Homo sapiens: one gene and its partners. The protein of the gene in region 1 purifies or fractionates together with the protein of each later gene. This does not show direct contact. Each region holds a gene or a part of one and is shown in the gene's direction. Other genes may lie near its edges. The genes, in order: ZNF214, TSKS, SMARCAD1, USP34, MTCL3 and ANKS3.

What was found.
Region 2: the proteins of ZNF214 (region 1) and TSKS purify together in Homo sapiens (affinity purification with mass spectrometry; one large-scale study listed by BioGRID and IntAct). This does not show direct contact.
Region 3: the proteins of ZNF214 (region 1) and SMARCAD1 purify together in Homo sapiens (affinity purification with mass spectrometry; 2 studies listed by BioGRID and IntAct, with this or other methods). This does not show direct contact.
Region 4: the proteins of ZNF214 (region 1) and USP34 purify together in Homo sapiens (affinity purification with mass spectrometry; 2 studies listed by BioGRID and IntAct, with this or other methods). This does not show direct contact.
Region 5: the proteins of ZNF214 (region 1) and MTCL3 purify together in Homo sapiens (affinity purification with mass spectrometry; one large-scale study listed by BioGRID and IntAct). This does not show direct contact.
Region 6: the proteins of ZNF214 (region 1) and ANKS3 purify together in Homo sapiens (affinity purification with mass spectrometry; 2 studies listed by BioGRID and IntAct, with this or other methods). This does not show direct contact.

What each region holds. Positions count from the first base shown.
Region 1 is NC_000011.10:7,016,803-7,022,596, reverse strand, and holds the start of ZNF214 (zinc finger protein 214), read left to right. Parts: upstream 1-2,250; 5' UTR 2,251-2,524; intron 2,525-2,846; exon of another isoform or gene 2,847-2,897; coding exon of another isoform or gene 2,898-2,914; intron 2,915-5,794. UniProt on the Homo sapiens protein: May be involved in transcriptional regulation.
Region 2 is NC_000019.10:49,752,578-49,757,690, reverse strand, and holds part of TSKS (testis-specific serine kinase substrate), read left to right. Parts: exon of another isoform or gene 1-536; intron 537-5,113. UniProt on the Homo sapiens protein: May play a role in testicular physiology, most probably in the process of spermatogenesis or spermatid development.
Region 3 is NC_000004.12:94,273,328-94,278,440, forward strand, and holds part of SMARCAD1 (SWI/SNF-related matrix-associated actin-dependent regulator of chromatin subfamily A containing DEAD/H box 1), read left to right. Parts: intron 1-289; coding exon 290-389; intron 390-1,410; coding exon 1,411-1,470; intron 1,471-1,562; coding exon 1,563-1,638; intron 1,639-3,011; coding exon 3,012-3,147; intron 3,148-3,694; coding exon 3,695-3,832; intron 3,833-5,094; coding exon 5,095-5,113. UniProt on the Homo sapiens protein: DNA helicase that possesses intrinsic ATP-dependent nucleosome-remodeling activity and is both required for DNA repair and heterochromatin organization.
Region 4 is NC_000002.12:61,190,697-61,195,809, reverse strand, and holds part of USP34 (ubiquitin carboxyl-terminal hydrolase 34), read left to right. Parts: intron 1-2,829; coding exon 2,830-2,909; intron 2,910-5,113. UniProt on the Homo sapiens protein: Ubiquitin hydrolase that can remove conjugated ubiquitin from AXIN1 and AXIN2, thereby acting as a regulator of Wnt signaling pathway.
Region 5 is NC_000006.12:127,483,719-127,488,831, reverse strand, and holds part of MTCL3 (microtubule cross-linking factor 3 precursor), read left to right. Parts: intron 1-5,113.
Region 6 is NC_000016.10:4,723,446-4,728,558, reverse strand, and holds part of ANKS3 (ankyrin repeat and SAM domain-containing protein 3), read left to right. Parts: intron 1-1,381; coding exon 1,382-1,580; intron 1,581-1,704; exon of another isoform or gene 1,705-1,778; coding exon 1,779-1,900; intron 1,901-3,727; coding exon 3,728-3,809; intron 3,810-5,113. UniProt on the Homo sapiens protein: May be involved in vasopressin signaling in the kidney.

The sequences.
Region 1 (5,794 bases):
TGTTTGAAGAGAAAACCACCAAGTTTTAGGTTGGCTGCTTAAAGATTCCCTTTTCATCAGGATCTTGGCCCCTAAATCCCTTGCTGTCTTGTCAGACTTGACTCCAATTTTTGTTCTTAGTTATGTGACATTAACCAAAATTATGGAAAATTCTATGCCTTCAAGCCACAGTCATATTCTTAGATTCTTCAATTATTTGCTATGAAGAATCTGCAACATCTTGGACTAGGAACTTGGGCTATCCCTCTCTTCCCATGCAAGGCAGTTTCTTCACTCCTACCCTGGGTACATCTCTAGGCATCTGGTGACTGCTCCCAGGACCCCCATCAAAGCTGGTGCTTTGGGTCTCTGCACATTCAAGCCAGGGAGGGTCCATGACCAATAATTTTCAAAATGTAGCTTCCAGAGTCATAAAAAATGCAGATGCTCACTGTGTGGTGGACGGAGGCAGATAGGCTCTAGGCCGGGCACCCCTGCTAAACCCCAAACTGTAACTGGGTAGAATTCATTCCTAAAAGTCTTGCGTATGCTATACTTGGTGCTCTTTGTTATTCATATTGGCCTCTGCCCTTTAGCAGGTATATTCCTTCAGATACACATTTTGTTTCTCTGAAAACTGGATCCTCTTAGCTTTTTTTTTTTCTTTTAATTTTGGTTAGTTCAATGAGGTTCAGGTAATATTCTCAGGTTGGAAGCAGTGTGGCAGAACAGCCCACTTCCAGTGTTCGTTCTTACCGGTCAATGTCTCTGCATTCAGTAATTCAACTATCAATTGCGGCTATTTAAATACATTGCTTTTTAATGTATTTAAATAGCCGCAATTGATAGTTGAATTACTGAATGCAGAGACAGATTTAATGGGTGCAGCACACCAACATGGCACATGTATACATAGGTAACAAACCTGACCTGGACGTTGTGCACATGTACCCTAAAACTTACAGTATAATAAAAAATAAATAAATAAATACATTGCAATTTACAGGTGAAAATACTTAAGGGTGAGCGGTTAAACAACTTGCTTACCACCACCTAGTGGATAACAATGATTGACAGCTCTTAATGTCAGTTCCGTCAGACAACAAAGCCCACATTTTTAAAATGCTATGCTATGCTCTCTGAATGTTCAAACCAGGGAAGGCCCACGCCCAGTAATTTTCAAAATGTGGTCTCCAGAGTCATAAAAAATGCAAGAGCTTATTGTGTGGTGAACTCAAGCAGATAGGCGCTGGGCCACCCACCCCTGCTAAACACCAAACTGTAAATATATAGTTCACAAGACTACTTCCTATGTGCAAGGGGCTGGTTTAAGCATTTTAACTACACTAACTCATTTCAATCTAACAAGTCTGTTACATAGTTACTATTATTATTGGCTATCAATATTACGCCTATTAAGCTGATGCTTAAAGGTTAGGTAATCCAGCCAAGATCTCGTAAGTGGTGTTGTCAGATTTGAATCCAAGGAGTCCCTTGCTTGTAATGACTATCCTACCAAAAGTTCCTTGCCTAATAAAATGTTTGAATATTACTGATCCAGCCCAAGTTTGAAGGACAGGGCCCAAAGATGCGAAAGTATTTTCCTAATATAACACACTCAGCTAAATAATAGAACAGGCTCTTGCAACTCTCTGTGGTCCCAGGACACTGAGGAGGGGCTCCTTCTCATGGCTTCATTTCAGCTCCACTGTGCGTTTCCCTTCTCTGCCTGGAGTCTCCAGAGGAGCCTGGGATTTGGCAAGAAGGCGGGAGGGAGGAAAGCCTCACTGGACCAGGAACGAAGAGGGTGTCTGGCAACAATAGGACGGAATTTGAAAACCTCTAACCTTGAGTTTAGAGCGATGCTAGCTAGTGCCAGGGCTAGTGAGGTGCCCATTCCGCCAAGGCGCGGGACAGCGAGGACAACCACGCCTTGCCAACCAAAGGCGACCTGACAGCGTTTCCTCGGGGTCGTCGCGGTGGTGAGGGTCACAGAATTCTCCGAAGCCAGTAGCTCCGTTTCCAGCCACGCCCCCTTTCCCAGGGCCCTAAAAGCTTCGGGAGTTCTCCTATTCCATTAATGCTGGTGCGTCCTCGCCTTATCCCCCGAGCGCCCGCAGCTCCCGCCCGCGCAGGAATGCCAGCGGCCAAAGGTCGGGAGGCGCGGGATACTTCTGGCCAATCAGGAGTCACGTTTTCCCGCGCTCTCTCTTCCCGCCCCGCCCCTCCCGTATCCATGGAAACACTGCGAGTGTCTACTCCAAGACCTGGGACTTCCGTTTCGGTCCAGCCGGGCTGCGGCCATTGTTTGTGTGGACTGAGTGTTTTGGCCATCCCGGTCCACTCTCACAGGCTCCGTTAAGTGACATGAACTCTCAGGAGGACTGAGCCAGAAGCGGACAGGGCAAGACGAGCTGTGCTTGAAGGAAGAGGGGCAGAAAATCGAGGGTCAGGGACTGAGAAGCTACTCCGGTTTAGAAACCCCAGAGACACCCGTGTAGATGGGTACATCACGGCTTCTCTCCCACGTTAAGACTTAATAAAGGCAAGTAGAGGAGGGCAGAAGCAGCTTGGGCCCCGGGGTATGGGTGCCCGGTGTTCGGTGCCGGGGCAGAGTTCTGGCCGGGGATCTGGATAAGCAACGGAGGCCGCGCGCGTCTTCAGTGCAGGAGCAGGGGACCCCCGGGTCTGTGGCGGAGACCGGGAGATCCCGCTCCTAGAGAACCGTTCGTGTGTCTGGTTCTCTGGTGCTTACACTTGGGCAGCCCGTGACGCGTTGGGGGAGCCCAAACCTGTCCTGCTCTTGGGGCACGCATGAAACGTTTTTTCCCTAGAGAAAGAGGGTTAACTAATTGCTTATTACTTTGCCCAGGAACCTACCTTTGATCAGCAAGGAAGGACTGGGGTGGCAAAGGCTCATGCCCCCATTTTACAGGTAAGGAAACTGAGATCTTGGAGATCTATAAGTTTGGTCCTCTTTAAAGTTCTACAAGTGCTTGATGGCACAGTTGAGACTTTGATCAGGACCTGGGAGCTCCAGTTCTGGGATACTTCTCTAAGACTCCAGGTACTTTTCTGATAGTAAATCCAGTATTCCTGTTTAGCAAGTAGGGGAGGACAATGGAATGATTTTCTACTTAAACTGAACAAAATAAGAAAAATACCTTGAGAATAGATACTATTTAAGTGTGCTGGTGCTTTCCTATTATTGTTAGTAGTAATAATAATCTCAATAAATAAGTGAGTTGTATCTTTTGAAGTTTCTAGAGGGTTGGAAATAAATTTCAAGGTGCCAGTGTTCATAGCTCTCCTTTCTGGTCGTTGAAAGGAAACAAGAGCATTCATAGGCTTCTTTTGGACCTCTTGCTAGGAGATGTGTGCGTCATACCCAGTTAGTATATGGGAAATTTAATGAATTTGGGAATTTAAAGCCATACCCAGGTTTTCAGTCTGCCTTCCTCCTCAGCTCAGCCGTCTCAGCACTCTACCCTTCCCCAGAAGAGGAACACAAAGGAGGAAGGAATGTACACTGTTTCCCTCATAGTCTGATCCCAAGTGAGGATGATTGTCTTTTCTCATTTACAAAATGTCCCTGCATTCTCCATGGGTGGTGGAGGTGGCAATGAGGATGGATGGATGACTGGACAGAAAACGTTCCTCGCTTGCCTGTGAAATTTTCGAGCGTGCAGACTTGACCCTGCCCCAACCCAGTGTCTTTTCCCAACATTTACTCATTCATTCATTCAGTCACTCAAGTCTAGTGTATAATTCATGCTGTTCTTGGTGTTCTGAGATAAAGAATTATAAGAATGTCATCGCCAGGCGCGGTGGCTCACGCCTGTAATCCCAGCACTTTGAGAGGCCAAGGTGGGCGGATCACTTGAGGTCAGGAGTTTGAGACCAGCCTGGCCCACATGGTGAAACCTCGTCTTTACTATAAATACAAAAATTAGCCAGGCATTGTGGCAGGCACCTGTAATCCCAGCTACTCAGGAGGCTGAAGCAGGAGAATTGCTTGAACCCGGGAGGCTGAAGTTGCAGTGAGCCAGGATGGCACCACTGCACTCCAACCTGGGCAACAGAGGAAGACTCCCTCTCAAAAAAAAAAAAAAAAAAAAAAAAGTCTTAACATTGGGGGTAATAAACTATATGAGATTAATAATAATTTCTGAAGTTATCGACATTAAACAGTGCCAGAATGAGTGGCACTTAAAACACAGCAACAGAAACTCAGATTTGAACAATTATGAGTAGGAAGATATTCTAAATAGGAAAGCCATCATTTACTCTCAGGTACAATTTGAGGGAACAAATAAGGAAACCAGGCTAGTGACAGGGAAGTGAAACATGAATGTATAAAGCCACATTGTGGAAGGCAATTAATGTTTAAATTTGTTATTTATTCTTGTGCATCTCTTCACATGAACCATATTGACAGCCATTGTTGACCTTTGGGTGTATTTACTTGTAGTCTTTTATTTAATACTTATTGTATATATGTACTCACTAGTCTGTACAAATACTGATATGTATGTATACATGTTCATACACATGTACAAATATAAACTTAGGTATATGCACACACGTATATAAAAAGATTAGTATATATAAAACATTAAATTAAAAAATTTGACTCATGACAAATAGTCTCCATGAGGGAAGGAAATGTTCCCAGTATATAGAAGTGTACTGTGCGTATACTAAGCACTCAGTAAATATTTATTCAATGTATGAATAGCTGTTATTTGTATACGTTTTTCACTTAACATATAATGAGCATTTTTCCAAGCATGTTTTGGTAGCATGAGTTTTAATGACTGTATAGTGTTCCATTCTAGGTATATAGTATGCTTTATTTAAGTTTGCTTTTTTTTTTTTTGAGACGGAGTCTCGCTCTGTCGCCCAGACTGGAGTGCAGTGGCATAATCTCGGCTCACTGCAACCTCAGCCTCCCTGGTTCAAGCAATTCTCGTGCCTCAGCCTCCCGAATAGCTGGGACTACAGGTGCACGCCACCATGCCCAGCTAATTTTTTTGTATTTTTAGTAGAGATGGGGTTTCACCGTGTTGCCCAGGCTGGTCTTGAACTCCTGAGCTCAGGCAATCTGCCCACCTTGGACTCCCATTAAGTTTGCTTTTTACTGGGGAAAATTTAAGTATTTCCCAATATGTTGTTGTTATAAATATCTTATAATAAATATTCTTATACATAATTTGTTAAGTATATGTCTTTTTATTTTCTCAAGATATACTCTGAGAAATAGGAAAACAGAATCAAAGGATATAAGCATGTTTTAGGCTTTTGAAAAACTGAAGTTCTCTTTTAGAAATGTTATGTGAACTTGAACTCCTACAACCATTTGATGAATGATTCTATCTTACTGAGCCTTTGCCAGCACTGAGTATTAAGTTTTAAATTTTGCCTTGATTTGCATCCTTTTTAATCCTTAGTAGGGTTGACTTTTTCACATATATTCGTTGACTCTTTATATTCCTTCTTTGATGAATTGCCTTTTGATATACATCACTGTTTTCCTACTGAATTTTTTGTTTCCACTTGATATTAGATATTCTTGTGTGGAAAACATATAAATCATTTGTCATATGCTGTAAATATTTCTCCTAGTTTATCATTTGCCTTTTACTTTAAGGACTTGTTTATATAAGTTTTAAATTTGCATAAAATGAAATCTCATTTCTTTTACTTATATAGTTCTGTGCTTTGAAATCTCTTCTTCACTTCCAAATTTAATATGTAATTGCTTTCATTTTCCTGTTTCTTAATTGTGTTATTTTAAACATTTAATTTTTAAATC
Region 2 (5,113 bases), on another chromosome or scaffold:
GCGGTGATGGAGACCCTGGTTGAGAGAGTGTCAGTTTCCAGGTAGGAGGAAGGACAATGGGAACCCTGTGAAGGTAGTTGTTAGTTATATCTCCATTTCACAGGTAGGGAAGCAGAGGCACAGAGAGGTGAAGTCCTCTCCATGAGGTCATACGGCTAGTAACTGGGAGAAATTAGTTGGCCCTAGGTCCTGTTGCCTTGGTTTCCAGAACAATTACCCACAGGAAACCCAAGACCTTCTGAGTCTTCAGGTTAGAAAGACACTTTGTGTAATGCTTTCTATTGCTGTGAAACCAATTACACCAAAACTTCAAACAACAAACTTGGAGGGGCTCAGCTGGGTGGGCCTGGCTCAGGGCGTCTCACGAGGTTGCAAACAAGATTTTGGCTGGGGCTGCAGTCACCTGAAGGTTGGACTGGGGCCAGAGGTTGTGCTACCAAAATGGGGCACTCACCTGCCCTTGGCTGGAGGCCTCAATTCCTTGCTACATGGGCCTCTTCATAGGTGGCTGCTTATGACATTGAGGCTATCGTTCCCTAGATGAAGAGAGAGCAAATAAGAAACAGTTCCTCTTATGAAGTAGTCTCTTACCTCACATATCATCAATTCTACTTTATTCTATTTTTTTATTTTTTGAGACAGAGTCTCTGTCACCTAGGCTGGAGTGCAGTGGCGCAATCTCGGCTTACTGCAGCCTGTGCCTCTCAGGTTCAAGCAATTGTCTTGCCTTAGCCTCCTGAGTAGCTGGCATTACAGGTGTGCACCACCATGCCCAGCTAATTTTTGTATTTTTTGTAGAAACAGGGTTTCACCATGTTGGCCAGGCTGGTCCTGAACTCCTGACCTCAGGTGATCCACCTGCCTCGGCCTCCCAAAGTGCTGGGATTACAAGCATGAGCCACCACAACTAGCCTGCCTTATTCTATTTCCTGGGTGTGAGTCACCAAGTCCAGCTCATACTCAAGTGAGGCAAATAAGGCTCCACGTTTTAAAGGAATGTGAAAGAATTTATGGACATATTTTAAACTATCACATTTTGTGGGATTTTTGTAGCTGCCCTTTATTGGGATGAGGAAGTTCCTTTCTTCCTTTCTATTTCTAGTTTGTGGAGTGTTTTTTTTTTTTTAATCATGAGTGGTATTTTGTCAAAAGCTTTTTCTCAACTGACATGATCATGTGTTTTTTTTCCCTTTTATTCTATTAATATGGTATGTAACATTTATTTGTTTTTAGAGACAGAGTCTTGCTCCATTGCCCAGGTTGGAGTGCAATGGTGCCATCATAGCTCACTGCAGCCTCAACCTCCTGGGCTCAAACAGTCCTCCCACCTCAGCATCCCAAGGAGCTGAGACCACAAGCACATGCCACTGTACCCAGATAATTTTTAAATTTTTTGGTAGAGATGGAGTCTCACTATGTTGACCTGGCTGGTCTAGAATTTCTGGCCTCAGGTGATCCTCCTGTCTCAGCTTCTCAAATTGCTGGGATGAGCCACCATGCCCAGTCATTGGTTGATTTTAGTATGTTGAACCAACCTTGCATTCCTGGGATAATTCCCAGTTGGTCACCATGTATAATCCTTTTTACATGCTGTTGGATTTGGTTTGCTAGTATTTCGTTGATGATTTTTGTGACCATATTCATAAAGGATATTGGTCTGTGGTTTTCTTTCTTTCTTTTCTTTTTTTTTGAGATGGAGTCTCGCTCTGTCGCCCACACTAGAATGCAATGGCACGATCTCGGCTCACTGCAACCTCCGCCTCCCAGGTTCAAGCGATTCTCCTGCCTCAGCCTCCCAAGTAGCTGGGACTACAGGTGCCTACCACCGCGCCAGGCTAATTTTTGCATTTTTAGTAGAGACAGGGTTTCACCATCTTGGCCAGGCTGGTTTCAAACTCCTAACCTCATAATCCACCCACTTTGGCCTCCCAAAGTGCTGGGATTACAGGCATCAGCCACCAAGCCCAGCCACCTGGCCCATTTTATCCTATTTTAAAAGTGTTTTTATTTTCATTTTTATTTTTAGAGACGCAGGTGTTACTTTGTTGCCCAGGCTGGTCTCAAACTCCTGGGCTCAAGCGATCCTCCCATCTTGGCCTCCCAAAGTGCTGGAAATACAGGTGTGAGCCACCATGTCCAGCCTTCTTATTGTTGTTTTTTATGAGACAGGGTTTTGCTATGTTGGCCAGGCTGGTCTTGAGCTCTTGGTCTCAAGTAATACACCCTCCTCAGCCTCCCAAAGTCCTGGGATGACAGCAGTGAGTCACTTGGCCCGGCCCCTGGAGCCTATTTGGAGTTCATTTGGCTTCTTGGATGTGTGGATTTATGTTCAAATCATCAAGTTTTGGAAGTTTTCAACCATTATTTCTTCAAATATTCTTTCTGCCCCTTTCTTTCCTTCTGGGACTCCCAGATCCATAGGTCTCTGAGGCTGTATTCATTCTTCTTCATTCTTTTTGTTTTCATGTTTCTCAGGCTGGATAATCAAAGTTGAGCTATGTTCAAGTTCACTGAATCATTATTCTGCTACAGAGCCCCCTCTAGTACATTTTTCACTTTGGTTATTGTACTTTTCAACCCTAGAATTTCTTTTTTGAGACGGAGTCTCTCTCTGTTGCCAGGCTGGAGTGCAGTAGTGTGATCTCAGCTCATTGCAACCTCTGCCTCCTGGGTTCAAGCGATTCTGCTGCCTCAGCCTCCCGAGTAGCTGGCTCTACAGGTGCACACCCCATCCCCGGCTAATTTTTGTATTTTTAGTAGAGACGGGGTTTCACCTTGTTGGCCAGGATGTTCTTGATCTCTTGACCTCGTGATCCGCCTGCCTTGGCCTCCCAAAGTGCTGGGATTACAGGTGTGAGCCATTGCGCCTGGCCCTTCAACCCTATAATTTCTATTTGGTTTCTTTTAATAATGTTTGTCTCTTTAGTGATATGCCCTATTTGGTGAGACATTATTCTCTCAATTTCCTTTAGTTATTTAGGAATGGTTTCCTTTAGCACTTCGAACATATTTAAAGTAGCTGATTTAAAGTGTTTGCCTAGTAAGTCCAAATCTGCCCCCGCCATCCTACCCCTGAACAGTTTCTCTTGACTGCTTGTTTGTCCTCCATTGTATAGGCCATAGTTTTTTTTCTTTGCATGCCTTATAACTTTTTTGTTGAAAACTGGCCATTTTTTATTTTTTATTTTTTTTGAGATGGAGTCTCACTCTATCACCCGGGCTTGAGTGCAGCGGCATGATCTTGGCTCACTGCAACCTCTGACTCCCAGGTTCAAGCGATTTTCCTGACTCAGCCTCCCCAGTAGCTGGGATTACAGGTGTGCACCACCATGCCTGTCTAATTTTTGGATTTTTAGCAGAGACGGGGTTTAACCATGTTGGCTGGGCTGGTCTCAAACTCCTGACCTCAGGTGATCCACCTGCCTTGGCCTCCCAAAGTGCTGAGATTACAGGTGTGAGCCACCGTGCCTGGCCTGAAAACTGGCCATTTAAAGTATCATAATGTAGCAGGGAACGGTGGCTCACGCCTGTAATCTCAGCACTTTGGGAGGCCAAGTCAGGCAGATCACCTGAGGTCAGGAGTTCGAGACCAGCCTGACCAATATGGTGAAACCCCCATCTCTACTAAAAATACAAAAATTAGCCAGGCGTGGTGGCGGGTGCCTGTAGTCCCAGCTACTGGGGAGGCTGAGGCAGGGGAATCGCTTGAACCCAGGAGGCAGAGGTTGCAGTGAGCCGAGATCATGCCACTGCACTCCAGCCTGGGGGACAGAGGGAGACTCTGTCTCAAAAAAAAAAAATACAATAAAAAATAAAGTATCATAATGTAGCAACCCTAGAAACAGATTCTCCCCACTCATAAGGATTTGTTGTTATTATTGCTTGTTATAGTTGCTTTTTATTTTATTATTTTTATTTATTTATTTTTATTATTATTTGAGACATGATCTTGCTCTGTTGCCCAGGCCACTGTACAGTGGCATGATTGTGGCCCACTGCAGCCTCTAACTCCCAGGCTTAAGGGATCCTCCTGCCTCAGCCTTCTGAGTAGCTGGGACTACAGGTGTGCACTACCAAGCTCAGCTAATTTTATTTTATTATTATTATTATTATTATTATTATTATTATTGAGATGGAGTCTTGCTTTGTTGCCCAGGCTGGAGTGCAATGGCGCGATCTCGGCTCACTGCAAGCTCCGCCTCCCGGGTTCACACCATTCTCCTGCCTCAGCTTCCCGAGTAGCTGGGACTACAGGCGCCCGCCACCACGTCCAGCTAATTTTTTGTATTTTTTAGTAGAGACGGGGTTCACCATGTTAGCCAGGATGGTCTCGATCTCCTGACCTCGTGATCCACCCGCCTCGGCCTCCCAAAGTGCTGGGATTACAGGCATGAGCCAACACGCCCGGCCTATTTTATTACTATTTTTTAAGGGATTAGGTTTTACTATGTTGCTCAGGCTGGTCTTGAACTTCTGGGCTCAAGCAGTCCTCCCACCTCATCCTCCCAAATTGTTGGAATTACAGGTGTGAGCTACTGCACCTGGCCTGTAGTTGCTTTTTAAAAAACAGACTTTTCTGAACTATTTCTGTAATATCTGTGTTCTTTGTCATGTTTGGCCACTGAAGTCTCTGTTCTCTAATTTTAGTGGTTAGCTAATGATTGGAGAGACATTTCCTTAAACTGGAACAACAACAAAATCTTCTAGTCTTTGCCAAATGGCACTCTGTGTGCCTGATGAGGCACACCTTTAACACTCAGACAATTTACAACTCTACCTTAGCCTTCCCTTCCTGCTTGTGCAGCGTTTCAAGGTTTCAAGGTCAGCCAGAGGTGAAAAGCTTGGGGCCTTCTCAGAACTTTCCCAAGCATGTACACAACCCTACACAGGCCAATGGCTTTCTACATTCCCAGGAATTTGTTGGAACATTTCAAGGCTTCTACAGATATGTCCATCAGATTTTCCTTTTAAGATTTTTTGCTTTTTATTGTTTACCCCAACTGTTATCCATTGCCTTCGGCAGTAGCAACATTAAAACAAGCGTAAAATTTTTTTTTCTTTACAAATGTTCCCTCTCCCACTCCATGTTAGTCCATTCTTGCATTGCTATAAA
Region 3 (5,113 bases), on another chromosome or scaffold:
TATATCCTTTCCATGCAATGCAAAAAGTCTTCCATATTAATGTGTATTGTATATGAACTAGCAATGAAGATCTATCCACTGCTCAGTAAAGTAAGTTATAGCATCATTTGGAGATTATAATCAATTCTGTCATTTGAGAACTAAGAACATAGTAGAAATTCCTTTAGAGTTGCATTCTGGGAAATCAAAAGTGAATACAGCACAGAATTACTGCTTTTTCTTCTGTATTTTTATGTATTTATTTTTTGTTTGTTTTAAAATGTTATATATTGTCTTTTAAACTTTTTAGGGCCTAGGAAAAACTATTCAAGCCATTGCATTTCTGGCATACCTCTATCAGGAGGGTAATAATGGTCCTCATTTGATCGTTGTTCCAGCTTCAACTATAGGTTTGTAATACTGGAGACAACTGTATTTAACTTTATCATGTTTTATATAGGTAGAAGAGAGTGTGTGTAAGGGTGTGTGTCGGAGGGGTGTTGTGGTTTCTTAGTTTGTAGAGATGAATATTAATTTTATGGTCTCTTTATACTTTTCTCCTTTGTTTATATATGTGTGTTTGATTATATTGGCAGTCTTTTAAAAAGAACTCAAATGTAAGTCAGTTTTAAAATTTTAGACCAAGGACGATTTATGTTGGTTTCATAATACTTTTAGTTACTTTTAAAAGTGACTAAGAGAAAATGAGTACTTTTAAATGTAGAATTAAACAGATACGTAATTAATTCCTACACACATAACTGTTCCATTCTTTCTCAATTCGTTGGATGTAGAAGTTAGAATAAGAGAATATTTGTACATGTGAATGTAACAAAGAAAACCCCCTTCTCTTTAAATTGGAGGTTAATAATCAACTGTAAATATAATATTTGGTCATCTGCCCTTCATTTTGATGCCTCACAAAACCTCAAGATCATTTTACATAGGTTTCATAAGGAGTAATATTGTAAAGGGTCTGTGATAAAAACAATCGCCATGGTATTTATATTTTAATTTTTAATTTTTATTTATTTTTTTTAAGACAGTCTCGCTGTGTCACCCAGGCTGGAGTGTGGTGGCTCAATCTTGGCTCACCGCAACCTCCGCCTCCCAGGTTCTCGTGCCTCAGCCTCCCGAGTAGCTGGGACTACAGGCGCCCGCCACCATGCCTGGCTAATTTTTGTATTTTTAGTGGAGATGGGGTTTCACCATGTTGGCCAGGCTGGTATCAAACTCCTGACCTCAGGTGATCCACCCGCCTCAGCTTCCCAAAGTGTTGGGATTACAGGCATGAGCCACCTTGCTGGGCCAGTATTTACTTTTTATAAAAGACTGATTTCTGAGTAGCACTTGTCAAAGTTTAGTGTTAATTTAACCATGTGAACATACCCTATTGTAGCAGATGCAAATAATGTCTCTTCTGTTCCATAGATAACTGGTTAAGGGAAGTTAATTTATGGTGCCCTACTTTGAAGGTCCTCTGTTACTATGGTAAGAATATGTCATTCTGCTTTTAACTTTGGAAATTAAAAATAAAGTACAGCACAATAAATAGTCATGTGTTTATTGTTTTTAAATTCTAGGTTCTCAAGAAGAACGTAAACAAATTAGATTTAACATTCATAGTAGATATGAAGATTACAATGTAATTGTGACCACGTAAGTATTGAGAAATTTGGGGAGGATGGATATTTATGCAGCCCCCAAATTTAAAAAAGAAATTGTAGTAGTACTATGTAGGAAAGTTTATGCTGTTAACTGTGATACGAAAGTAATAGAATGACTAATGTTGAGGATTCAGGCATTTTTTAGTTTGGTGTGTAATACCCATATAGGAGGTTTTTGTTAGTGAATCACCTCATTAATGGTGACTATAAAAAGGTTTTGCCTAGTTATTGAAAAAAGTCGTCTTGTAATAGTAATTTCTCAGTTAAGCTTAAAGTAAAATTTGAGATATCCCACCAAAATTATTTATATTTTTAACTTACAAATAAGTATCTGTAATAAATACAATGAAATTTCATTTTCTCAATGAAAAATTTGAGTTAGGGCAGAAATAAAAATGAAAAATAATACTAATAATACTACTTGGTAATAATTGATGTAAATATCTTGCACAGAACTTAATGCTCTTGTGTTACATTAGTTGATTTATTTAAAGTTCTATTTTAACTGTAGTTATTATTTCTCTCTACTGGCTTCTTGTGTAGGAGTCTGTCCTTTAAAAATTCATGCGGAATTTTATTTTTTCTTAATAAAACAGGCTCCATATGCAGTCTCAAGCTGCTAGCTATTAACTATTATTTCTTGGATCTAATCTGCTAGTTTAATAAAATATTAAGTTTTAAAGAGAAACATGTTTTAGCTTCACGTTCTTTTTTGTGCTTATTAAAATATAACACTTCATGGAGCAGATTACTTACAAGTTATACCCAAATTGACCTCCTCCTGGGTATGTAGAAGTTGTCCGATTGTAACATTAACATTTTCTTTTTTTTTTTTTTTTTTGAGACGGAGTCTCACTCTGTCCCCCAGGCTAGAGTGCAGTGGCGCGATCTCAGCTTACTGCAACCTCTTGCCTCCCGGGTTCACGCCATTCTCCTGCCTCAGCCTCCTGAATAGCTGGGACTACAGGCGCCCACCACCACACCCGGCTAATTTTTTATATTTTTAGTAGAGACAGGGTTTCACCGTGTTAGCCAGGATGGTCTCGATCTTCTGACCTCGTGATCCGCCCGCCTCGGCCTCCAAAAGTGCTGGGATTACAGGTGTGAGCCACCGCTCCCAGCCTTTTAACATTTTCTTTCAATTATGTATTGCAGCTTTCATAGCTTGGTTACAGTGTACATCAATAATTATTAAATACAAGTACGTCAGTATTTATTTGAGTATCACCCGTGTCTAGTGCTGTGCTTTAAGTACTGGCTGTTAGAAATGTGTAAATAAAAAATGATTTTATAAGACATTAAATTTCACTAGACTCCAAGCTCTTAAAGGTATAACCTTAGAGATGTTTTTTCTTTTGGTGACAGATATAACTGTGCGATCAGCAGTTCTGATGACCGTAGTCTGTTTCGACGGCTGAAACTTAATTACGCAATTTTTGATGAGGGCCATATGCTGAAGAATATGGGCTCCATTCGCTACCAGCACCTTATGACAATTAATGTAAGAGAATGTTTGTAAAGTTTTCCAAATTACTGTAAAATTTAGATTACGTAATTTAATATATGTAGTATTTATTAGCAGAATCTGTATTATGTAGTTTAATATATGTAGTATTCTGTGTTAGCAAGTTTTTTCTGTAAAAGGGAAGATAGTAAATATTTCACACTTTATGGACTAGATGGCCTCTGTCACGTATTCTTTGATTTTGTTTTTTAACAACCCTTTAAAAAATTATTAGGTCATAAGCCATAATTTACCTGTTCTATATGTTAAACTATTTATAAATAATCTTTCATCATCTCATAAAGGTGATACGAGGACACAAGTTACCTACTTATAAAAGAAGACCAATGGTTTTCGTATTCATTGCTGTTGATAATAGCGGACGTCAATTATTTAAATTACTATATCATTTATCACAGAATGTTAAATTATTAATAATGGTTTTAATTTATCTCTCCTCCCTTCACCTTTCACTGGGGAGGATAGACATGAAAGGAGTGGCTCTTTAAGAAAAAGCTAATATAAATTTTACCTTCATTCACAGGCAAATAACCGTTTGCTGCTCACAGGCACACCTGTACAGAACAATCTGTTAGAACTCATGTCGCTGTTGAATTTTGTTATGCCACACATGTTTAGTAGTAGCACCAGTGAAATACGAAGAATGTTTTCCTCTAAGACAGTAAGCATAAATGCATATTTTCTCCCAAATATGTTATTTGTGTTTTATCTGGGCCATTCTTCTGTTAGGTCTCTTTTGTTGTTTTCATAGTGCATATGCTCTATGAAGTAACTTTAAGTAGGTGATAACTCTATATTTGGATTGGTTTGGAAACCAGCCAAAATATAATGGGAAAGAAAATAGCAATTTCCCTAATCAATGGCCAGAAGTCTTGGTTAATATCCTAATTTTCTGAAGGATGACGATTTTAAATTGATGAAGAGCTCAGATATATAGTATGTGCGGAAAGTTTGATCATTACATCATCTGTATCAAAATTGGCTACGTAAATTAGTAACATTTCTTTATGGGTAAACTATAAAACTAGACAAAGCTAGAATATCCAGAAAATGCCTATGCTGAGAAATATATTCTGAAATAAAAGTTCATAAAACCAAAGTCACAACTAAAAGCGACAGTAAAGAAATCCTCTTCACAAGAAAAGTTTTGTTACTTCTTTATTGTTTAGGAAAAGTATAGTCTTCAAGAACTCCCAGTTTTTTCAATACCGCAGTGTTTACACTGATTCTTGGCTCTCTTCCACATCACTAATCTTTTGCAAGAATTTTCTGTGATACTCGTCCACTGCAAATTAACTGCCTTTTAAACATTTACTAATTTGAATTCCCTCCCACTTAATGTACAGTGTTTTAAATGGCCTAGCAGATTTTATGAACCATTTTCTATCTTCAGTTCATAATATATGGAGGACTCCTTCACATCCTAGAATAAAATTCTACTTCTTAATTCTCCAGAGTCACCAGTTCTGACTAAGCACTATTCCCCATTTTTAGACCAAGTGATTTGCATCAGTCTGCACTAGCTTCCTTTTGGGGCCATTTTCCACAAAGAAATAAAGGATTTTCTACCCCCCACGCTCCTCCTTACCCACACTTAGACACATTTTTCAATGAGAGTTATCTAGGTAATCGATACATGACTCATCAGTTGATGACTTCTGAACACCCATCTGGTACAGTTCAAATTGATTACTTCAGTAGAGAACATGATTACGTATCATAAAACTTCAAAATACATATGGAGCTTCAAGAAGTACATGGCAGCCCAGAATTCAGATGTGAAGTGCCATCTAGAATGAATCAAGTTTCTGCAGAAAATAACTCAGACTCTAATGAGGGAGATTTTTATGTTGTGTAATAATACTGTTATTGCAATAATTTAAGTGAATAATTCCTAAAAGGATATGTTTTTATTTTGCTCAGAAATCAGCAGATGAGCAAA
Region 4 (5,113 bases), on another chromosome or scaffold:
CAGCCTCTAGTTCAGAGGTTAGTGGGTTAGCAGACTCTTTTTGCAAAGAGGGGACACTATATATTTTAGACTCCACAGGCCACAAGGTCTCTGTAACATACTGTTTTTTGTTTGGCTAATGGTTTTTTTGTTTTGTTTGAGACAGAGTCTGGCTCTGTCACCCAGGCTGGAGTGCAGTGGCACAATCTCGTCTCATTGCAACTTCTGCCTCCTGGGTTCAAGTGATTCTCCTGCCTCAGCCTCCTGAGTAGCTGGGATTACAGGTGCGTGCCACCACGCCTGGCTAATTTTTGTATTTTTAGTAGAAACGGGGTTTCACCATGTTGGTCAGGCTGGTCTCGAACTCCTGACCTCATGATCTGCCTGCCTTGGCCTCCCAAAGTGCTGGGGTTACAGGCATGAGCCACTATGCCCAGCCTGGCTGATTTTTTTTTTTTTTTTTTAACCTTTAAAAATGTAAAAGCCAGCCGGATATGATGGCTCATGCCTGTACTCCCAGCACTTTCAAAGGCCAATGCAAGAGGATGAATTATGCCAGGAGTTTGAGACCAGCCTGGGCAACATGGCAAGACCCCATTTCTACAAAACTTTTTGAGAGAGTTTGCTCTGTCACCCAGACTGGAGTGCAGTTGCATAATCTTGGCTTACTGCAACCTCTGCCTTACGGGTTCAAGCAGTTCTCCTGCCTCAGCCTCCTGAATAGCTGGGATTACAGGTGTGTGCCACCACACCCAGCCAATTTTTGTATTTTTAGTAGAGACGGGGTTTCATTATTCTCCTGCCTCGGCCTCCCAAAGTGCCGGGATTACCAGCGTGAGTCACCATACCTGGCCCAAAACTTTTTTTTTTTTTTTTTTTGACAGAGTTTCACTCTTGTTGTCCAGGCTGGAGTGCAATGGCACGATCTCGGCTCACCGCAACCTCCGCCTGCCGCGTTCAAGCAATTCTCCTGCGTCAGCCTCCCAAGTAGCTGGGATTACAGGGATGTGCCACCACGCCCTGCTAGTTTTGTATTTTTACTAGAGACGGTTTCTCCATGTTGGTCAGGCTGGTTGCGAATTCCTGACCTCAGGTGATCCGCCCACCTTGGCCTCCCAAAGTGTTGGGATTACAGGCATGAGCCACTGCGCCTGGCCCCAAAATATTTTTTTAAGAAAATTGTCCCAGCCTGCAGTCTTAGCTACTACGGAGGCTAAGGTGTAAGGATCACTTGAGCACAGCGGTTCAAGGCTGCCCCTGATCTGTGATCACGCCACTGCACTCCAACCTGGGCAACAGAGTGAAGACACTGTCTGTCTCAAAGAAAAAGCCATTCTTAGCTCACAAGTCCATATAAAAACAGGCCATGGGTCAGATTTGGCCTGAGGGCCATAGTTTGCTAACCCTTCCTCTACTTTGATGAGTAATTAGGATACAGGAACATGGGAACGTAGGAACTCTCTTCCCTATAGCCACAGATGTGATGACATGTCCTTGTTTACCTATGTGTGTGGTGATACCGTGGTGGGTATATGCTGCCAAACACCAACCAGATTAGGTTAGGATAAAGGGGAAGTAGCATTTCCTTGCCTCTTGTGTCTAAAGGGACTCATCTTGACAGGAAAATAAATTGGCTTACCTGTGGAAGGGATCCTAGGCATCCTTGGTAAGTTCTGAGTGAGTGACCTGACTTGCCTGTGTAGGATGTTCTCAAGTCCTTGGTCTAACCCACGGTTTGGCAAATTACAACCCACATGCTGCCTGTTTTTGTATAACCATGGCTACCTGCTAGCTAAGAATAGTTTTCATATTTTTAAATTTTTTTTTAATATAGAATATTTTCTGACATGAAAATTATGAGATTCCCATTTCAGTGTTTGTAAAGTTTTACTGAAAGACAGCCACACCCATTTCCTTACTCTTGTCTAAGGCTGCCTTCACACTGCCTCAGCAGGGTTGAGCTGTGTTAACAGAGCATGGCCACAAAGCCTCAAACACTATTTGGCCCTTCCCAGAACAAGTTTGCTGACTCCTTGTCTAACTCAGTCTTTTCTTAACTGGAAGAGGATGGTCTGTGTTATATTTCTTCTTCTCCATGATTATACTTGCCCTGGGGACCCTAGGGGATGTGGAAGATGGGAAATTCATTTAGGACTGTGGTAATGAAGCTTCTGTACTTTCAGAGATAGGATGACAGAGGATAGGGGCACACATCTTAGTGACATATTTTACATCTGGAATAGTCAAGAAGTGGAGAAGTAAATTCATAGAGGTTCCAAATAGCACTCTCTGACATAGTGCCAGATGCGGTCCACTCAGAAGATCCTGGGAACAAGCCAAGAAACTGGTGTTAAGGGCCGCATTTACTTAAATGTACCACAAAGGTCATTCTATCTTTGAAGAAAGAAGGTAAAAGAGGAAAGATATGTTTAATTCTCCACTTTTTTTTTTTTTTTTTTTTTTTTACCTTTCCCCTCCTCCCTCCTGCAGTCTAGCCACCCTATGAAAATTATCTAATAGGCAGAGTGGTACCTTAATCCAAGAAAGATTTGGAGCCACTTGCAGTAACTTTTTCTTTTCCCAGATAAAGTTCTAATACTCAAAAAAGAAGAGTTGATTTAAGTCCCATATCCTTCAGGAATGAGGTATAGGATATAAATAAATTCAAAGTACCACATTCTAAGATATTTCACTAAACATTGGAATGAATTTTTCCCCTTTATGTACTTTAAAATATAGAAAATATGCAGTTATGACTAGAAATAGCTGTAATATTGTACCTGCAGAGTTGAGTATCTCACTAGTATAATTTATAATTATAACCTATTCTGATTTCTTTTCAAATATTAGGTGTCCTAGTTGCCTATGAAGGTTTGCCACTTCATCTTGCACTGTTCCCCAAACTTTGGACTGAGCTATGCCAGACTCAGGTAAAGAAAATGAGTTTTAGATGATTGGTCTTTAATCTTATCTGACCAAGTGGTCAATAATTTTAGGAACAGTGGGTTGAAGACTTGCTGAAAAGTGGGGACATTTTAGAATCTTGATAGGTAACATATGAATGAATGAAAATACTAGCTATTACATATTAGGCATCTAGTTTCCCTTTGATTTTTTTAACTTAAGTAGATTTCTATCATAGAGGATATTTTAAATAAGCTGGTTATAATTGAATTTCTCATTTATAGATGTATATCAACAGTTGTGGGGAAAATCCAAAACAGGGAGATAGTGGGGGAAAAGGCACTTGCCACTTCTTCCTCTCCTTCACCTCCCTGTCTCTACCTCTTTTCCACCATTCCAAAACCTCTAGCAGAAACCCTGTCAGCAGTCTGTCCTTTAGCTTTTCATAATCTGTAGTTTTTCAGGGGTCTGATGCACTTGTTTTCTTACAGCGATCTCCTTGAAAACAGGAAAGATTACTGTTCCTACCTTAAGTGTCTAAGAGCCAACTCCTTAAAATTAAGTGGCTGCATAAATAATGCTTGTTAAGTTACAAAGGCAGAATTGGGAAGAGGAGGAGGTACTAATGTTTGGCTCATTCCTTGGATCAGGCATAAAGGATCCCCACTACCTTTCAGTCCCTGAAAAAACTGTTGATTGTACTGCCTGGTTGCATCTGCTCTACCCCATTGGAAGAGATGAATTTATTCACCTTCCTTAGGTGCAACCCTTGACCCACATCATGCTTTCCTGAAGTATTTTGAGTCTGGTTCAGCCTCCTACCAGGCTGTAGTGTGCTCTGGATTCTCCTAGATGTTTGCCATCCTGTACTCTACTGGTGGTTTCTCTACTTTTCCAAAACAGAACTCAAGTGTAGAGACCTTATCAGAGTCATCTCCATCCCCTGAAGAAATGCCACGTTGTTCTCTACAGTAGAAATCTTTCAGAGGCTAGTATACACTGATCTTAGCTCACTTGACTTAGCATACAGTAGGCATTCAGAAAATGACTTTTATCAGTTGATTTTTGAGCTGAGTGTTCTGTTCAGTCAATTGGAGATCTCGTTTTCCCTCTCCACTGCTACTGCTGTTCTTTTTCATTCTTCCTGATTTGGGTAGTTTCTTGGTTTCTGTACTCTCCCACTACCTATTGCTCCCTATTGCTTTCTCTACTTCTGCATCGCAGGACTCCCTTCGCTTGACTTCTTTCACAGACAGAACTCACTGTGCCCCCAAATTTCCCTTAAAACAAAGCCTAACCATATAAGGCCTCCAAAGCTTCCAGTGCTATAGAAGCAGCCATCCTGAGCAAGAAACAGAGGCAGAGGCACAGGCTGTGACTGGTAGACCAAGGCAGGTTTTTCCTAGTGTTAAGGATCTCAAGACCTGGGTCTTGGTCCTACTTGAATCCTAATTTCTTGACTGACCTTGAGTAATTTACTTATGACAGCTGCATACTTTAATAAGATATACACATATGCATATATATATATATATAATCTAAATTTTGTCCTATTTAAAAAATATATTGCTTTTTTCCATATAAATTATTAAAATGCACATTTAAATCTATGGAGTGTATCTGCTTAAAGACATACTACTTGTGTTTAAGAGCCATGACTATTTGAAAACAGGAAAACCAAATTTTAGTAAAATTTCCATATATTGAGACCACTGATTCTGTGTGAGATAATTAGGAAAGAAGATTTATTGTTTACCCTTGCAGTGTTTATGGGGGGAAAAGGTATTTACAGAATTACTGTTGCTAGCGAGAATATACAGTAAAGTTTAAAACATTTTGGAGAATTGATTTTGATTCTTAAAATGTGTCTTTTTGCAACATATGCTCTGGTTACCTATAAATACATTAATTTGGCCCTTGAAAACATTCACATCCTATTCTTTGTTAGCCTTATTTTTCCAGTCCTTGTTAACTCTCTCAGTGCTGGATAATAAACCTGCATTTCTTTTAAAACATTTGTTCAGTTTCGGCATCAGTGTCTTCCCCCAGCACTCCCTTAATCTAAATTAGTAACATTTTACTGTATGAAAAATAGTTGCTGTTAACTAAAAATTCAATAGGTGAGTTAGACATGGCTTTTCAAGTAGGATTTTCAGTGGCTTCAGATTCCATCATACACAAGTGTATGTTTTTTCTGTGTAAGTTTTTTCCGTGTAAGTTTTTTCCGTGC
Region 5 (5,113 bases), on another chromosome or scaffold:
CAATCTGTGGTTGGTTGAATCCACAGATGTGAAACCTGTAGATACAGAGGGCCAGCTATATGTGATATGTCCTGTTTTAAATACTTTTCAGCTCATACAATTTTGACTCTTTAGTCTTTTTGTTGAAAAGCCTAAGACATTTTTATTTTTCCAGCTTCTTTCCATTTTATATTCCAGCTTTTTAAAGGTCTACTTTTAAAGTAGACCTTTTCAAATGGGCTTTTGTTTACCTGTTATCATTTATTGACTTTTAGTAACGCTTCCAAAACAAATCTAGGTAAGAAATAAAGCTACAGTGGCTGTTTCCTCATTGAACTGACATAGACTAAACAACTACTTTGTGTCAGGTATATTTCTAAGAGCAGGAGCTATAACAGAGACCAATTCTAGGAGCCTGCTCTTGTGGAGCTCACATTGCAGAATGAGAAAACAGACATTGAAACAAACAAATATACAAGTCAGTTGGTGAGATTAGAGGAGCTATGGGGAAAAATTAAAAAGCAGAATTAGGAAGACAAGGAATATGCAAAGGAAGAGAATGGCCGAAGGATTTGCTTTTTGATATGAAATGGCCTGGGAAGGTCTCTCTTATTAGGAACCCTGAAGAGACTATGGAAGTGGGTCATGAGAGTATATGATGGAAGAATGTTGCAGGCAGAGGAAGCCATAATCCAAAGGCCCCAAACAAGGGCATACTTGGTATGTTTGAGGAACTGCAAGGATGCCTGTGACACTAGAGCAAAGAAAGCAGTGAGGAGTGTGGTGGGAGATGAGGTTGAAGGGCTTGTTTGGGATGTGGGATTGGGGGGTGGGGTGACCACATAGAGTGGGCTGGTAGTTGACAGAACCAGCTACACATTCTAGTCACTCTGGGAGCTTTGAAAAAATGTCTGGGCCCAATCCCAAAATCTGTTTTAATTGGTCTGGGTTGAAATCTGGTCAAGTCTTTATAAAACATTACCAGAATAAATCCAGTGTGTAGTCAGGGTCTGGTATACCTTAGTAAAGCATGACTCTAACTCAGTGAGATGGGAAGCCACTGAAAGATTTTGCACAGGATGATACAGCTTGATCACCCTGGCATGTGCCTCTTCTTCACCCACATTCCCCTCTGGACCTTAAGATCATGCCTTAGTATGAAGCTTGGGATCCTGCCTCACCCTTTTAGGGAAGAGAGTGAATGTGGTCCTAAGTAAGCTCTCTGGGCACTTCACCTGTTCTGCCTCTGCCAGTCTGTCTGGGTAAGTGTCAAGGATGTAATAGAAGGAAAAGAGGAAGACTTCTAGGAACAAGAGCCCATTCTGTCCCCTTCCAAGACAAGTTGGAGACAGAGCTTCTACCTTTTTCAGTTTCCTTCCAGCAGGCAATCCCTGGGCCTCCCTCCCAGTGTTACCCTATAGTCACAGTATTTACAGATTGATTTAAGAACCAGTAAGTGGTGTATGTCACTTCTGCTGATCCCTGTGTTGAAAATATTAAAACTTCTGCACATGTGTCATATATGTAACCTAGTACCCCAAACCTTGCTGTCACGCTCTGTTACCATAAAGGATATGCTCAGAAATAATATAAGCCTGCTATCTAAATTGCACCTTTTTCTGTCGAAGTAACAGTATAATGTAGTTGTTCAGAGTGGGAACTCTGAAACTGGCTAATTTGCATCCTGGTTCTAACACTAGCTAGCTGAGCGATAAATCCATTGTGTGCTTCAGACAATGGTGTCAATAAGTCTGTTGTCAGTCTGAATGAGTAGATACATATAAAGTGCTTAGAAAAGTGCATGACACATATTTAGGGCTCAAAAGATCTAAATATTAATGTCTCTATAGTTTCCTTCTTGATTTAATTACCACACAAATGAATCTCTCTTTAATTTTATCAACAGCATAGGAGACTTCTATATGCATAATATGTCTTTTGGTAGCATGTTAGGCACATTCTTCTCTGTGGTTTAATTGCTGAAAACATAAAGATGCTACATACTAAGTGGAGTAAATTTTAATTGAGAAAAGGAAGATAATCTCAAAACATTTTTAGAAAACAAACAACCCATTTTATATCATTGCTGTGAAAAAATAATTACTGGCAAAACTCTCTAATTCCTGGCCTTCTCATGATCAAAAAAAACAGCAGCCTCTTTTGGACAAGCTGAGGCTGGGAATGTAAAGAATTAAGAAGTGGACAATAAATGTTTTCAACGTATTTATCTAGAGAACCATCTAGAGAAGTGCCTGCTTTGCCAGCAAATATGAAAATCTGAGATTTCATTGTGGCCTCCCCAACTGCTCCCCTAGCAGAGGTTACAAGATTTAGTGGATGATGGTGGGGGAGGATGACAAGGGGGGAGGTTACACAGTTTCATCCTCACAGGAAAGGGACTACTTGGACTCACATTATTTCTCTAACTTTCTGTATCCATAGAAATGTCTCATCTTTGTTTCATAGGATTCAGAAAGTTAACATAAACTTACTGGAATATGAAAATATGAAATATTTATTGAAAATGCAAATGTGATACTTACACATAGTAGCAGCCCTAAAGGCACCTGAAAGCTAATGTATCTTTATTCAAGGGGAAGGCTTTACTTCAGAGCTTTATTTGAGCTTAACACTCCACCTGAGTGATATTTAAATAAAAGCAAAATAGAAAATGCCTCTTAGGAAAGAATGCCCTAATTTCAGCATTGCTCTTATATTAATTTAGAGGTCTCATTTTAACATTGCCCACAGGATAAAGTCTAAATTTCTCAGCTGCACAAGCTGACCTCAATCTTTTCTGCATCTTCTTTTACCCCATCTCTACAGTGGCCCTACCTCCATCACTTCTTTTCAGGAGTTAGTGCATCTGAAAGGCAAACTCATTCCTCTATATCTTTACTCCTACAACAGTTTGTTCAGTTTTATTTCTGTTGAAATTTTGCATATCCTTCAAAAGTCAGTTCTCTTGAATGATTTTCTCTGATTCCCCAGATCTGGAATTAGAGCTTCTTCCTTTGCCCTCTCAGTCCCTTTTTGTTCATTTATTGCCCTGAGTTAGTTCTGCCCACTGTTTTTGCTAATTGCATCCTTTTTATCATTATAAACAGTTAGCTCTTTGGGGAAAGAGTACAATATTTCTTAGTCACATGTGTTTGGCATATATACAGTACCACATATAGACCAGAAACTAAATACCTATGAAATGAATGAAACACAAAGACCAAAAAACATTTCCAGAACTAGAACATACTTTCCCTTGAAACCCCTGCATGTAACATCTTTATCTCACAGCGATTTGTACTGCCACCCTTGTGTCTTTGTATATCTCTATGACAGTCTAATTATGACATTTCTTGCTCAATAGGAGCATTTAGTGCTCCAAGTTGACCCTAGGACAATAATTTGACCTGAATAAGATAAAATTCAATCTTTATTCAATGTCCTTCAAGATCTGACTTATGCCACCAGCAAATCTCATGTCACTCCTCTCCTCTCACTCTGTAACACCCATATGGAATTTCTGTCCCAGAAATGGTTTTTCTATGTGGAATGCCTTTTTTTTTCCCTTTTCCTCCTCTTCATCTTCCATTGGCTAACTACTCATGCACCAGATTCTAGATAAGATGCTACTCATTTTGGAAATTATCCCTAGCTCCCCACACCATCTCTAGCCCTAGATTAGATAAAGTCTTTCTCCTTAGTGATCTAATAGCTAACAGTTAGATATGAGAAAGACTTGGGTCAAGGTCTGAAGTTATTGTTACCAACTAGTAACTTTAGACATTTGCAAACTTTAGCTTATTAAATCATAGATCACTGGGCCTCATCCTCAGAGTTTCTGAATCAGTGGTTCTGGGATGAATCTCAAGAATTTGCTTTTCCAACAGCTTTCTGGGTGACACTGATGATGCTGTTCTGAGGAGCACAGAGATAACTGATGCTTTTGATAATTTATTCATCTACTTCTGTTACCCCTGTAAACTTTAGTTTCAGCACCTGCAAAGTGAGGCTAAAAGGAGTGTTTAAAAATTAGCTGAGATAATGTATGTGAAGGGGTTGACATGAATTAGGGCTCAATGACAGTTAATATTGTTCTTGTATTATCATTGCTTTCATAACACTGTGTTGAATTCCAGACTGAACAGATCATGCCAAGTAAGCTGAGAACCCCCAAAAGAGCAAAGATCACATTGGTTTCATTATTATTGTGTCACAGGTATGTTATGAAGTGCATTGGTAGTCACTAAATAAACACATAATTGAGTGAATTCAAATACAAGCATTCAATAAGTATTTAGTGAAACAAATTCAACGCTTCTTGTAGGCAGCCCCTACCTAGAATGTTCCAGGTTTCTTAGTTTAGCTCACTTTATTCTTGGTATTCTTGGGACTGTTTTGTTGATTACTTCCTAAATTACTTTTTGGTTATGGTGAGTCAGTCCCCAAGCTTTCCTTTCTAAGAAGATTATACAAGCAACAGAAAGAACTTCTTCCTGTAAAGAACTAGAAATGAATAACCACGTGGGCTATTCATTTGTCTGTGTAGTTTCAGTTTCATACTGAATGAAAGCAGTTGCACCAAAGTATTCCCCTGCCTTCTGTGCTTGAACGTATGCCTTTACTTAACAGTGGATATGGGTTAGAAATTAACATGTGAAGAATTTAATTTTCATTTCTTTGCGAATTTATGAAGACTCCTGTTTGGAAAAGGCTTCCCTATTTTTACTGTCAGTCTATACCCCTGTCCTTCTCTTTGACCTCAGAACCTCGATTTGGTATTCATATATCATTAGTTCAGCAAGTATTTTTTTCACCACCTGCCATGTGGCAAGCACTATTTTTATGGTGGTGATGCCACACTAAATCAAAACCCCTGCTTCACAGAACCTAAAGCATAGCATTTATCAATTTGCACTGTAATTGTTTGCTTCTCTGTCTCCTCCCCTGCTAAGTTTCAGCTTCCTGATGGTAGATGCAGTATCTAATCAAACTTTGAGTCTCCCCCTCAATGTGTAGTATATGGTAGACAGTCATACATACGGATAATTATTGTTTACATACAGAGACCCTTCTTCTTATATTGGTGTGAGAAATGGAACTGAGCACCAGAGATCATATTACGCTTGTCCTTGAA
Region 6 (5,113 bases), on another chromosome or scaffold:
TGCTGTTGTGTAAAGGAAGATAGTGTTAGGACGAGCTGGGTGCATTCGAGCCCTGCTGCAGAGGCATCTCCATGCAGCCCCCCTGGCCAGGGGCTGCCACTGAACCCTGGTATCAGGACCTTCTGGAATGGCTGCCCAGGTGTGCATCCCAGAGTCACTGAGGGCTGCCAGGCAATGGAAGGTAGTTGCCTGCTGTGGTCTAATATGTGAATCCCGGCTGGGCGCGGTGGCTCACGCCTGTAATCCAGCACTTTGGGAGGCTAAGGCGGGTGGATCACGAGGTCAGGAGATCGAGACCATCCTGGCTAACACGGTGAAACCCCATCTCTACTAAAAATACAAAAAACTAGCTGGGCGTAGTGGCGGGCGCCTGTAGTCCCAGCTACTTGGGAGGCTGAGGCAGGAGAATGGCGTGAACTTGGGAGGCGGAGCTTGCAGTGAGCCGAGATCGCGCCACTGCACTCCAGCCTGGGCGACAGAGCGAGACTCTGTCTCAAAAAAACAACAAAAAAGTGAATCCCGTAAAAGGGACAGATCCTGGGGTTCAGTCACCAGTTGTTATCCCCTCTGCAGGCAAGAACTGGGGAAGGGAAAGAAGGCCTGTGGGCGTTAACCATGTAGGATCCCAGGTAACCATGCAAGTGGGTATTATTTTAAATGTGACTCCCTTGTCCCAACCCCAGAGTCGCAGCTAGGAAGCCCACAGTTTTTTCCCATGGGAAAATGCATTGCCAGAATTTTAACAGCAATCAGTGAGAAAGATGGGATTCTTTGGTCACAGATTTTTCAAGAATGTTTCTTTAAGGTGAGGTGACAAAGGATGAATCAGTGGCGGTGGGACTTGTCCACGGTGGAGTCCCTTCTTTCCTCACTGCTCCTCTCCACCCAGCAGTGGGCTAGTAGATGCCAGGCCTGTGGTGGTCAGGGTTTTTCAACTGTGGCTGTGTTGACAATCCAGGCTGGATCATTCTTTGCTGTGGGGGCTGTCCTGGACACTGTGGGATGTTTAGCGGCAGCCTTGGCCTCCAGCAGCCCTTCCCTGCCCAGTTGTGAGAACCAAAAATGCCTTCACACATTGCCACATATTCCCTGGTTGAGTGCCATCTGCCTATCTGGTGGTGTGAAAGAGCATAGCTGGCCTTGGGCTAGGAGGATGCGAAATCAGAGCAAGGAGACGAAGGCTCAGGGCCTCACAAGGCAGTGTACGAGCAACTGTCAGCATTTTTCTGCCTGCCTGCCTCCAATCCCCACAACGTCCAGGGTGGCAGATAACTTCTGCTTCCTGTCAACTCATCCCGCCTGGCCTAGCCTCGCCACCAGCTTTGGTGAACCCCACATGCGAGGCGGCTGGCCATGTCTAGCATATCTTGCGTTTGTTTAGGAGAGAGTTAGATTTGAATAAGAAGAATGGTGGTGGCTGGACCCCGCTGATGTATGCCTCCTACATTGGCCACGACACAATCGTGCACCTGCTGCTTGAGGCGGGGGTGAGTGTGAATGTGCCGACCCCAGAAGGGCAGACTCCACTGATGCTGGCCTCCAGCTGTGGCAACGAGAGCATCGCCTACTTTCTTCTCCAGGTGAGCTACGAGGGAACTCAGGCCCAGAAACCTGAGGGGCTCCGTGGCCACCCTGACAGAGATGCGAACCACTGCAGGCCACGGTGTTCGTGTGTGCTCGTGTAATCACTTCTGATTCTTGCAGCATGGCCGCCTGGAGGGCGCCCGCCCCACGCAGAGGAGATGAGGCCGTAACGCACGTTCTGTGTTCTCTTGAAGCAAGGTGCAGAGCTAGAAATGAAAGACATCCAGGGCTGGACAGCCCTCTTCCACTGTACCAGCGCCGGGCACCAGCACATGGTCAGGTTCCTCTTGGACAGTGGAGCCAATGCCAACGTGAGGTGATTGCCACATCTTTAGTGGCCACAGGAGTGGCCTAGGTGTCATCTGACTCTAAGGAGGGTGGCTCTGGAGGCAGCTAACCAGAGTTTAGGGCCACCCTGCTTCGGCACGAGAGGCTCAAGATGAGGGGTAGGACCAGAGTCCTTCCAGGCACAGGCCTTTTCGTACATCTGTGAGATGCATCTCTTCAAGCCCTCTCAGCTTCCTTTTCTTTATCTGAAACCCACCTGGGTCATACAGTTGTAAGAATTACATGTTTTATTGTATGCCAGGGGCCTAACATACTGAATGGCATTTAAATGTCATACATTACATGCAAATTCCTTCCATTTTCTTGCTTTTTGTATGGATGAGGTGAGGTGATGCTTTGAAACAGTCATGAGGCCGGGCGTGGTGGCTCACGCCTGTGATCCCAGCTCTTTGGGAGGCCGAGGTAGGCAGATCACGAGGTCAGGAGATCGAGACCATCCTGGCTAACATGGTGAAACCCCATCTCTACTAAAAATACGAAAAAATTAGCTGGGCATGGTGACGGGCGCCTGTAGTCCCAGCTACTCGGGAGGCTGAGGCAAGAGAATGGTGTGAACCCGGGAGGTGGAGCTTGCAGTGAGCCGAGATTGCACCACTGCACTCCAGCCTGGGTGACAGAGCAAGACTCCATCTCAAAAAAAAAAAAACAAAAACAACAGTCATGAGTTTTGGCCGGGCTCAGTGGCTCACACCTGTAATCCTAGCACTCTGGGAGGCCAAGGCGGGCAGATCATGAGGTCAGGAGTTCGAGACCAGTCTGGCCAACATGGTGAAACCCCGTCTCTACTAAAAATACAAAAATTAGCTGGGCGTGGTGGCAGGTGCCTGTAATCCCAGCTACTCGGGAGTCTGAGGCGGGAGAATCACTTGAAACCAGAAGGCAGAGGTTGCAGTGAACTGAGAGATCGTGCCACTGCACTCCAGCCTGAGCAACAAGAGCAAAACTCTGTCTCAAAAACAAACAAAAAACCAGTCATGAGTTTTATAAGTTGGAAGTGGGATTGTTGTCTAAAGCTTGTCATGATAATAATCACCTTTGAACAAACGCAGCGGGTACCAATGCAGCACCCACCCTGGCTGTCATTCATTCTAAGACACCTGATAATTTTGTATGCCACTAAGAAAGAAAAAATATGCTACTAATTAACATTCAACTCGCCTGTTGATTTAAAGATGTTTTCTGACTTGAGAGATGTTAAAATATGAACACTGTGTGTCTTAAGATGGATGAAAACCAGCATTTCCCATGCATGGTTCCTGACTTCCAAACCAGCATGAGACAAGGAGGGATTTGGAAGCCCTCTGAAGACAGTGCCGAGTTAGCATAACCAAGCATGAAAAGCAAGCTTCAGGAGCTAAGCGTGGCAAAGATAGCTTAGATCATTAGTACTTGAACTTTTCAGAGTGGGTTCATGGAGGACGTTGAACTTGAAGCCAGGATTTGGATGAATGGATGGGAGATGCTGGCTTTCTGTGAGGAATTAGAACAGCTTTTTGAATATGATTGAGGTGGAGATTTCAGAGGTAGCCAGTGGGAATAGCCAACAGGTGGGACGACAGGCAGACATCTGTCTTTAGGACAAAGACCAGCCCTGGGGACAGACACCAGAAGAGTAAATGGAGCTGATGTGTTATATTCACTGTTCTCATGTCACCTGTTAATTCTGGAAAGGGACAGTGTTCTACGCTTAGGGATCGGTGACTCGTGCACTGCTCAGGGTTTATCTTCAGCAGGGAGTTTTTGCCTGGCGGAACTTGTCTCTTCCAATCATCTGACTGTGGCCCACATCTTGCAGGGAGCCGATATGTGGATTTACTCCCTTGATGGAAGCAGCTGCTGCTGGCCATGAGATAATCGTGCAGTATTTTCTGAATCACGTAAGTGACCCTGATTATTAGCATGTAATGTAGTCACGGCAAATGAGGAATCATATTACTGAAGTATAAGCTATTACAGAATTTTCCTTTGCACAGAAATAACTTTCATTCATTTATTCAACACATTTTCATTATCTATTGACGCCCGGTGTTGAGTGGTGCTTAGGCATTAAGGATACAGTGGTGAGTAGAAATAGACACCTATTCCTGTAATAATTTTGAAAATACTATCTGAAAATTATGGAAAAATATTTTAAAAGTAAATAGCACTCATAATCCTGTCACTTAGAAAAATTATATAGAATAAGAAGGCAGAGATCCTCCTCTCTTTTTCAACCTCCCTGATGCCCACTTGGTTTGAGAAAGAGCTGCCCTAGGACTTTTCCTCTGCTGTGGAAAGATGTGTCTGTAGGCAAGTGTGTGCACATTGCTTTGTGTTTTGAACAAAGTGGGATTCTACGTATAGTCTGTAACTTAGAGACATCTTATAGACATCTTATCTTTGTACAGTATTCCGTGTACAATCTGCCTCAGTTAATTTAATGAGTTTCTTATTAGTAGAAACTTAGTTTTTAACATTTTGCAATTATAAACAGTGTTCCGGGAATATCCTTTTACACATAGCTTTAATACATTTGCAGTTATTTCTGTATGTTGTATTTCTGTTTTATTTTATTAATTTATTTTTTTGAGACATGGTGTTGCCCTGTATCCCAGGCTGGAGTTCAGTGGCGAGATCGTGGCTCACTGCAGCTTCAGCCTCCTGGGCTCAAGCGATCCTCCTGCCTCAGCCCCCAAGTAGCTGGGACTACAGGTGCATGCTACCATGCCCCGGCTAATTATTTAATTTTTTTTTTTTGGTAGAGTTGGGGGTCTCAGTATGTTGTGCAGGCTAGTCTTGAATTCCTGAGCTCAAGCGATCACCTCAGCCTCCCAAAGTGCTGGGATCACAGGTGCAAGCCTGTCCACACAGAACCTTGTACATAAATATTCATAGCAGTATTATTCATAATTGCCAAAAAGTAGAAAAACCCACAAGTCCATCTACTGAGGAATTGATAAACAAAATATATATCTGTATAGCAGGATATTATTCGGCCCTACAAAGTAATGCAGTACTGCTGCATGCTGCGGCAGGGGTGAACCCTGATGCGTTAGGCTGGGCTGGGTGCGGTGGCGCACGCCGGTAATCCCAACACTTTGGGAGGCTGAGGCCAGAGGGTCGCTTCAGCCCTGGAGTTGGAGGTTGCAGTGAGCTATGATTGCGCCGCCACACTCCATTCTGGGTCACAGAGTGGATCCTG